Homo sapiens: one gene and its partner. Changing the gene in region 1 together with any one later gene gives a genetic interaction. Each region holds a gene or a part of one and is shown on either strand. Other genes may lie near its edges.

Region 1 (4,095 bases):
TTGTTAGCAAGAGTAGGGTATGGGTGTGAGTGTCAGTAACACATACAAGATGTATCTCCTAATAAGACACCTATACTAAGAGGTGAGATGAAATTAAAGTTTCAACCCAGCCCAACTCCTAATTGAATCAAAGTGATCAGCCCCTTATCCTATCTTCCTGATAGAAGAAAAGGTGTACCCTCTCTGGAGGAAAATATGTACTCAAGTGTCTATGCCAGATATACAATTAAACATGAGCCAAATGAAGAGGCAGAAATAGGTGACTCACAATCAAGAAAGAAGCAGATTACAGAACTGTAAGTGACTAGATGTTGAAATTTGCAATCAAGGACTTTCAAATAGCTATCAAAAATATGTTAAATTAGAGGAAATGACCTTTTTTTAAAATGGATAAAAAAATGGAAAATTTCAACAGAAAATGGAATCCCTACGAAACAACTAAAATGTACATTACTGAATGGAAAAACACAGTGTTTATAATAATTCTCTGGATAAGATTTATAGCACACTGGACATGGCAGGCAAAATGCCTAGTAAACCCTAGGGAACCCTTCTTATATATGGAGTTAGGAATTTGGGGAAGAACTTCAAAATGTCATTCTTGAAATCCTTCAGAACACTTTGGTGGATGCTTTCTATCTCTATATGACTTGTATGGAGTTCATCAAACATGTCTAGAACAAACATAAAAGTATTTGATCTAGAAAAACAGCATATCTGCCTCAAAAGGCAAACAGAAATAAGAGGATTAGAATGTCCCTTTGTAAAGAGTAAAGCAAAGAATTAATTTGGTCTAGCTGTGTTGGCTCGATAACAGATTTACAGCTGATTGTAAATGTCATTACCTACTAAAGTAATGAGTCAAATACTCTCTTTTACAGCTCCCCTTTTACTCTCCTCATGCCTAAAGGATATTTATATACAAAAAAATTGATTCTCAATAAAATCAGCTAAAATAAAGACTGAAAAGAGATTACCTCCTTTCTGAATTTCACTCCATCGAAACTGATGGCGTCTCACAACAGAGAAAACAGAATCATATCCTTCTTCTCGAATCATTTCTGCAACTTTTTGAAGATCAGTAGGATGTAAACATGGAGAAGTAGCTTGAATATTTCCTACAATGTCAACCTCTTAAAAAGACAAGAGAAATGAAAAGGATATTTAAAAAAAAAGTTCCTTGCAAGCAAGTAATATTAAGGTTTGGAATTCAAATGTTAAAACAAGTCTTATAAGATAATAAAGGAAGTAGAAAAGTACATAAAGGTTTGAATAAACTATTAATCAAATTCATACCATTATGATAATTAAGAAATTCTATGATGGCATCTAGTGAGGTAGAGCTGTCTTTTGAAACTTCAGAACTTCTTCGATGAACTTGTGCACCAAATTGTTTGGCCACATTCTCAATTTCATCATGGTCTGTCGAAACCCATACACTGTTCAGATATCAAAAGAAATTAACAGCCAAATCAAAAGAAATCATTAACAATAAAATGGAGCTCTGTAACCATAAAATACAGCTTATATAATGTGAGAATATTTTTTGCACAATGATAATAATGTTACAGATCCAAAGGAGTATAAAATGTAAGAAATTATAAAGTATTTTGTATATAAATATATTAATGAATAAAAATGCAGTCCTAGATATGCTTTATATAAAGAAAGGAACAACAGACACTGGGGCCTACTTGAGGGTAGAGGGTGGGAGGAGGGTGAGGATCAAAAAACTACCTATCAGGTACTATGCTTACTACCTGAATGACGAAATAATCTGTACACCGAACCCCTGCAACATGCAACTTACCTCTGTAACAAGCCTGATGTACCCCTGAACCTAAAATAAACGTTTTTAAAAAGGCACTAGAAGTCAAATCTAAAGAAAATTAAAGATCTTGCTTATTCTCCATCCAAATCCAAAATATTGTATAAAATATTTTAATATGCTTGCTAAAAAAAAAAAAATGGACTTGGCTTAGCCAAACCCTAAAGGTGAAACAGTTTCAAGCTTAGAAGATAATAAATGCCCAAGTCTGGGCTCAAAAAAAATCAGATGAAACAACTCTTTCTTTTTTAAACAACAAACAATGGGTATATAGATGTAGAATCAGCTGGGTTATAGCCATTGATAACAACAAACATGAAGAACATGACTTCATTAGCTCAAAAGAATTTAACTTAATACTCTATTAACCGCAGGTTACACAGTTGCCTATTTAGCCTTTACAAAATGATGAGTAGGCAAAATGCTGTTTTGGAGAGGGGTACCAGTTTCTATTGAAGTTTTGTTTCCTGGACAGTCACAAATTCCCACTGCTAAATGCAGAAGATGTAAATACTACTCTAGCCACAATGTTTGGTCAGGCCTGGAGTCTCACACCTGTAATCCCAACACTTTGGGAAGCCGAGGCGGGTGGATCACCTGAGGTCACGAGATGGAGACCAGCCTGGCCAACACGGTGAAACCCGGACTCTACTAAACATACAAAAATTAGCTGGGCATGGTGATGCACACCTGTAATCCCAGCTACTAGGGAGGCTGAGACAGGAGGATCGCTTGAACCTGGGAGGCAGAGGTTGCAGTGAGCCGAGATCGCGCCACTGCACTCCAGCCTGAGAGACACAGCGAGACCCTGTCTCAAAAAAAAAGACAAAAAACAACAACAAAACCCTGCCATGTTTTTTTGTTTTGTTTTGTTTTGTTTTGAGACGGAGTCTCGCTGTGTCTCCCAGGTTGGAGTGCAGTGGCGCGATCTCGGCTCACTGCAAGCTCCGCCTCCCAGGTTCATGCCATTCTCCTGCCTCAGCCTCCCAAGTAGCTGGGACTACAGGCGCCCGCCAACACGCCCGGCTAATTTTTTGTATTTTTAGTAGAAACGGGGTTTCACCGTGTTAGCCAAGATGGTCTCGATCTCCTGACCTCGTGATCCGCCCGTCTCGGCCTCCCAAAGTGCTAGGATTACAGGCGTGAGCCACCGTGCCCGGCCCCCACCATGTTTTAATAGTGATTTATGCAAAGATATCTTAATGACTTATAGTCTTTGGTGTATGTGTGTGTATATATATATATATATTTGGTGTGTATATATATATATACACACACAAACATATATACACATTATTTTATATACATACAAAATTATATATAACGTGTATATATAATGTGTATATATAATGTGTATATGTGTGTGTGTATATGTATACATATACACACACACATATATATTTTTCCTTTTATCCCACTCTTTCGATATCTACTGAGGGAAAGATGAACTGCATGTTTTGTTTGTTTTTTTGACAGAGTCTTGCTCTGTCACCCAGGCTGGAGTACAGTGGCCCATTATCTGCTCACTGCAACCTCCACCTCCCAGGTTCAAGCGATTCTCATGCCTTAGGCTCCTGAGTAGCTGGGATTAGATTACAGGCATGTGTCACCACGCCCGACCAATTTTTAGTAAAGATGGGGTTTTGCCATGTTGGCCAGGATGGTCTCAAACTCCTGACCTCAAGTGACCCTCCCACCTCAGCCTCCCAAAATGCTAGGATTACAGGTGTAAGCCACCACGCTCGGCTGAACTGCATGTTTGTCTATGCTCAATTATCATGAGTGGAAAGAAAGTGAAAAACTAAAGAAAATCTTCTAACATCCCTGGATTTCATTTATTTATTTCGTTTATTCCCTTTAATATTTATAGAGGGATTTAAATCAAGGGATAAAGTCAGTAAGAAAAAATAATCAAAGAAAGCCTAGCAAACAAGATGAGCCACTGGCTAGGGGTCAAGAATCCCGTGATATCTACTTATGTCACTCTATGCAGGGCGAACGCAGGAGCCCCCATTTTCCTCCATCTTGAAATCTGAAATAGTGGGAAAAAAATGTTCTCTTGGGAAATGTCATAGTCAAAGGTATATAACAAAGTAAAGTAGCAATGAAAACCTAGTGCATTTTTAAAATAGAGATGACGAGAGGATAAGATGAAATTAGAATACAATAAAAAATAAACAGGGAAGGCAAAAGACATGGTAATTTGGCATCTAATTTACATTAATTGAAATAAATTGCTGAAGCCATTTACTTCATTATCCTGATTT
Region 2 (3,797 bases), on another chromosome or scaffold:
GAGATGATGTGTAAGCAGTGATCTGAGTGCTGAGAAAGAGGCTGTCATGTGAACATTTGGAGGCAGATTATCCCAGGTAGGGACAAAAGTAAAAGGAAAGACCTGAGTCAGAAACAAGGATGTCTGGTTTGAGGAATTAAAAGATTTGCAAGGTAACTGAAGCATAGTGAGTGAGGAGGAGAGTATTGAAAATGAAGTTAGAGAAACTGGTGAGGAGTTGGGTGCAGTGGCTCATGCCTGTAATCCAAACACTTTGGGAGGCTGAGGCCAGAGCATTCCTTGAGCTCAGGAGTTCAAGACCAGCCTGGGCAACATGGTGAAAACCCGTCTCTATAAAACAATACAAAAATTAGCCAGGCGTGGTGGCGTGCCCCTGTACTCCCAGCAACTTGAGAAGCTGAGGTGGGAGGATCACCAGAGCCCAGGAAGGTCAAGGCTGCAGTGAGCCATGATTGCGCCACTACACTCCAGCCTGGGCAACAGAGTGAGACTCTGTCTCAAAAGAAAAAAGAAAAGAAACTGGTGAGGGTTTCTAATTCTAAGTGCAAATGGAAACCATGGAAGGGTTTTGAACATAAATTTGCCTTTTGAAAAACCACTCTTGCACTTTGTGAACTTTAGCGGGGCAAGAATGGAAGATTGGAAGCAGGGAGACCAATTATGCAGCTCTTCCCATGATCCTTGTGAGATAATAGTGGCTTGGGTGTACTGTTTGAATTATTGGGAAGGGATTAGATTGCGATTTTGAAGGAAGAGCTAACAAGACTTGCTATTCTAATACACTTAATTTTCATACTCTTGCATTCCTTTTTTAATTCCTTAAATACTATGCAAAATTAAAGCTTACATATTTGGAATATTTGGCAACTGGTGTTGTAGAAATTTGTTTATGGTGTGATTAAATCGTATCCTGGAATTGTGTTCATTTTAGTATTGGAGTTGCAGAATTTTAATACCTTTTAAACACCTTATTTTATTGGTATTATTGGTACAGACATAATTACATTACACATATCTGAAAGAAAATTATTCATATAGCAACTCTTATTTTTCCTCAAACTTAATTAGGCATAATTAAAATTCTACTTAAAGATAAATTACTTTACAATTTTTTTTTAAATTGTGAAATATAGCAAGTATATTTTCTAAACATCACAAAATGGAAATACACAGTATAATGAATAATTATAAAATGAATATTCATTTAACTACCACCCCAATCTAGAATTAGAACATTACTGGCTTCCCAGAAGTTCCATGCCACCCTTTTATGCCCTTCCCTGATCTTTTCTCATTTCTTTATATTTTTTTCTATCTTAGGACTGTACCACAATTTGTTTACGCATTTTTTTAATGGATTTTGGATTTTCTGTAAGAATAAAAAACAGTTTAGAAACAATGCCACTACTTTTGTCTATGAATTATAGTATGTGTGTGAACATGTGTTTCTAGGGTTTATACCTGGGAATAGAATTGCTTTGTTGTGTGGTATGCATATCTTCAATTTGCCTAGATGTTACCAAAACATTTTCCAAAGTGATTGTACTAGTTTACACTCTCACCAATAGTGTATGAATGTACCTATTGTCATATTCTCGCCAATACTTAGTTTGGTAAGACTTTAAAAATTTTTGTCAATCTGTTGGCTTTGTAATTTTATTGTGGTTTTAAATGTGCAGTTCTTTAATTCCTGATGAGATTGAACCACCTTTCAAATACTTTATTGGCCATTTGGATTTCCTCTTTTATGCAGTGCCTGTTCAAGTCTTTTGCTCATCTTTTCATTGGTCAGCTTTATTTTTCTTACTGGTTTGTGAGAATTCTTGGTATTTCTTGGATGCTAGTGCAAGTTGGTTGTATGTTATAAATACCTTCTTCTAGTCTTTGTCTTGTCTTTTCATTTTATAGTGTCTTGTGGTGAATGGATGTTCTTAGTTTTAATGTAGTCAAATTTATCATTTGTTTCCTTTATAGTTAGTAGGTTTATATGTTTATAAAGAAATCCATCTCTACCTTGAAGTTAGGAAGTTATTCTTTTATAGTTATTGCCTAAAAGCTTTATACTGTTGTGTTTTACACTTATGTCTTTAACTGGAATTGATTTTTGGTATCATATACAGAGGAGTTCCCATTTAATTTTTCATATAGATAATCCACTTTTCCCAGCACCATTTATTGGAAAGTTCATCCTTTCCCTATTGCTCTGTAGGACCACCTTTGTCATATATCAGCATCCCTATATGCTTGGGTCATTTTGTGGCCTTGTCTTTTCCATTCTGTTGGCCTACTGGTATATCCTGCACCAATACTATGCTCTCTGAATTATTGTGGTTTTTTACTGAAACTTGTTATCTGATTAAGTCCTCCCACTTTTTTTCTAGAGTATGGCTATTCAGTGCTGTTTTCAAGGCAAAATAATTGCAAATCTAAGCAAGGGATGGTCCATAGCCATAACTGCTAATGGATTTTTTTTCTTTTTTCCTCTGTTTCAGTGTAACCATACAAGTTTCCTAGCTTGCTCTAAAAGTAGAGATTGTTTCTGGTTCACCCTTATCCTGAAGGTATATTAGGAGGGTTGGTCACTGCTATTAGAATTATTATAATTATCACTACCATTACTGAAACTAAAGTCCTCTAAATTATAAAATTACATGTAATTTCTTAAAACAGTTTCCTACTTAGCCAATGATAGCTGACCCATCCTTTCCTTGGCTTATGGACTTGATTCTGACTGTTTACATTGCAAATTCTAGATCCCTATTCACTTAACAAAAAACTTGCGTTTATATTTTGCCTCTTATTTGAGTGATCTTTCTTCTTCCTTGACTTAATAAAAATCTGGTATTACTTCCTTCATAACTCTGGAATTGCCCAGTTTAGCTTAATCAACCCAGGTGGTCAATGTAATAACACATGTCAGAGCCAGAATGTTCTCATATCCCATTTTGTGCTTCCCACAACAGTGGTTACTTTAAGCTAGGCCTTGTACTAGGCAATGCCTTGGCTCTTCCCTTGAGTGAGCTGTCTAGTAATAAAATCAGTGATATATATATACAGCTAACTGGTAAAACCATCGGTAAAAGAAATCAAGAATTGTGTAGGTAGCCCCCGTGATTGCCAAATGACCTGTGTTTTTGTTTGTTTAATCTCCATTAAATTCTTCTTTGGCTCACAGAACATATGGTTAGAAACACAAGCTCTGGAATTAGACAGACCAGGGTTTGAATACAGGTTCTATCTCTCTGGGATAGCTGTATGATGTTGGGATCTCACTAATTTTTATTGCTAAAATGGAGATGATAGTACCTATTCTCATAGTATCATGGTGAAGATTACATGAGATTACTGCTTAGAGCTGTTGTAACACTTAGGTTCTCAGTAAATCTTAACTATTATTGAACATTGTTTTACTCACTTTTTAAATTTAAGGAATTTAAAAATTAATTTGTCTGTTTGGTTTTTGTTGTTAGATGTACTTTATGAAAAATCGTGCCCGGAGGCAAGGTATTAACTTAAAACTTCTACCCAATGGATTCACCAAGAGGAAGGAGAATTCAACCTTTTTTGATAAGAAGTAAGTTTCTAACTTTTTAGTATATCAGGTATTCTGATTTGATCAGGATCATTCTTTAAGGTTTGGTTGCTATAGAGCATTGCTACCCCAAGTGTGGTTCTGTAAACTGTTTGTTATTGGTCCATGACAAGATAACTGTAGTAATTGTATGTCATGTAACTCTAATAAAAATTTGGGTTTGCAGTGTGTGCGTGTGTGTGTGTGTGTGTGTGTGTCTTCATAT

What was found.
Region 2: changes in CMAS (region 1) and ZNHIT6 together harm fitness more than expected from each alone (negative genetic interaction), as found in Homo sapiens cells (one large-scale study listed by BioGRID).

Annotation. Positions count from the first base shown.
Region 1 is NC_000012.12:22,052,493-22,056,587, reverse strand, and holds part of CMAS (N-acylneuraminate cytidylyltransferase), read right to left. Parts: intron 1,440-4,095; coding exon 1,297-1,439; intron 1,134-1,296; coding exon 978-1,133; intron 1-977. UniProt on the Homo sapiens protein: Catalyzes the activation of N-acetylneuraminic acid (NeuNAc) to cytidine 5'-monophosphate N-acetylneuraminic acid (CMP-NeuNAc), a substrate required for the addition of sialic acid.
Region 2 is NC_000001.11:85,701,934-85,705,730, reverse strand, and holds part of ZNHIT6 (box C/D snoRNA protein 1), read left to right. Parts: intron 1-3,470; coding exon 3,471-3,574; intron 3,575-3,797. UniProt on the Homo sapiens protein: Required for box C/D snoRNAs accumulation involved in snoRNA processing, snoRNA transport to the nucleolus and ribosome biogenesis.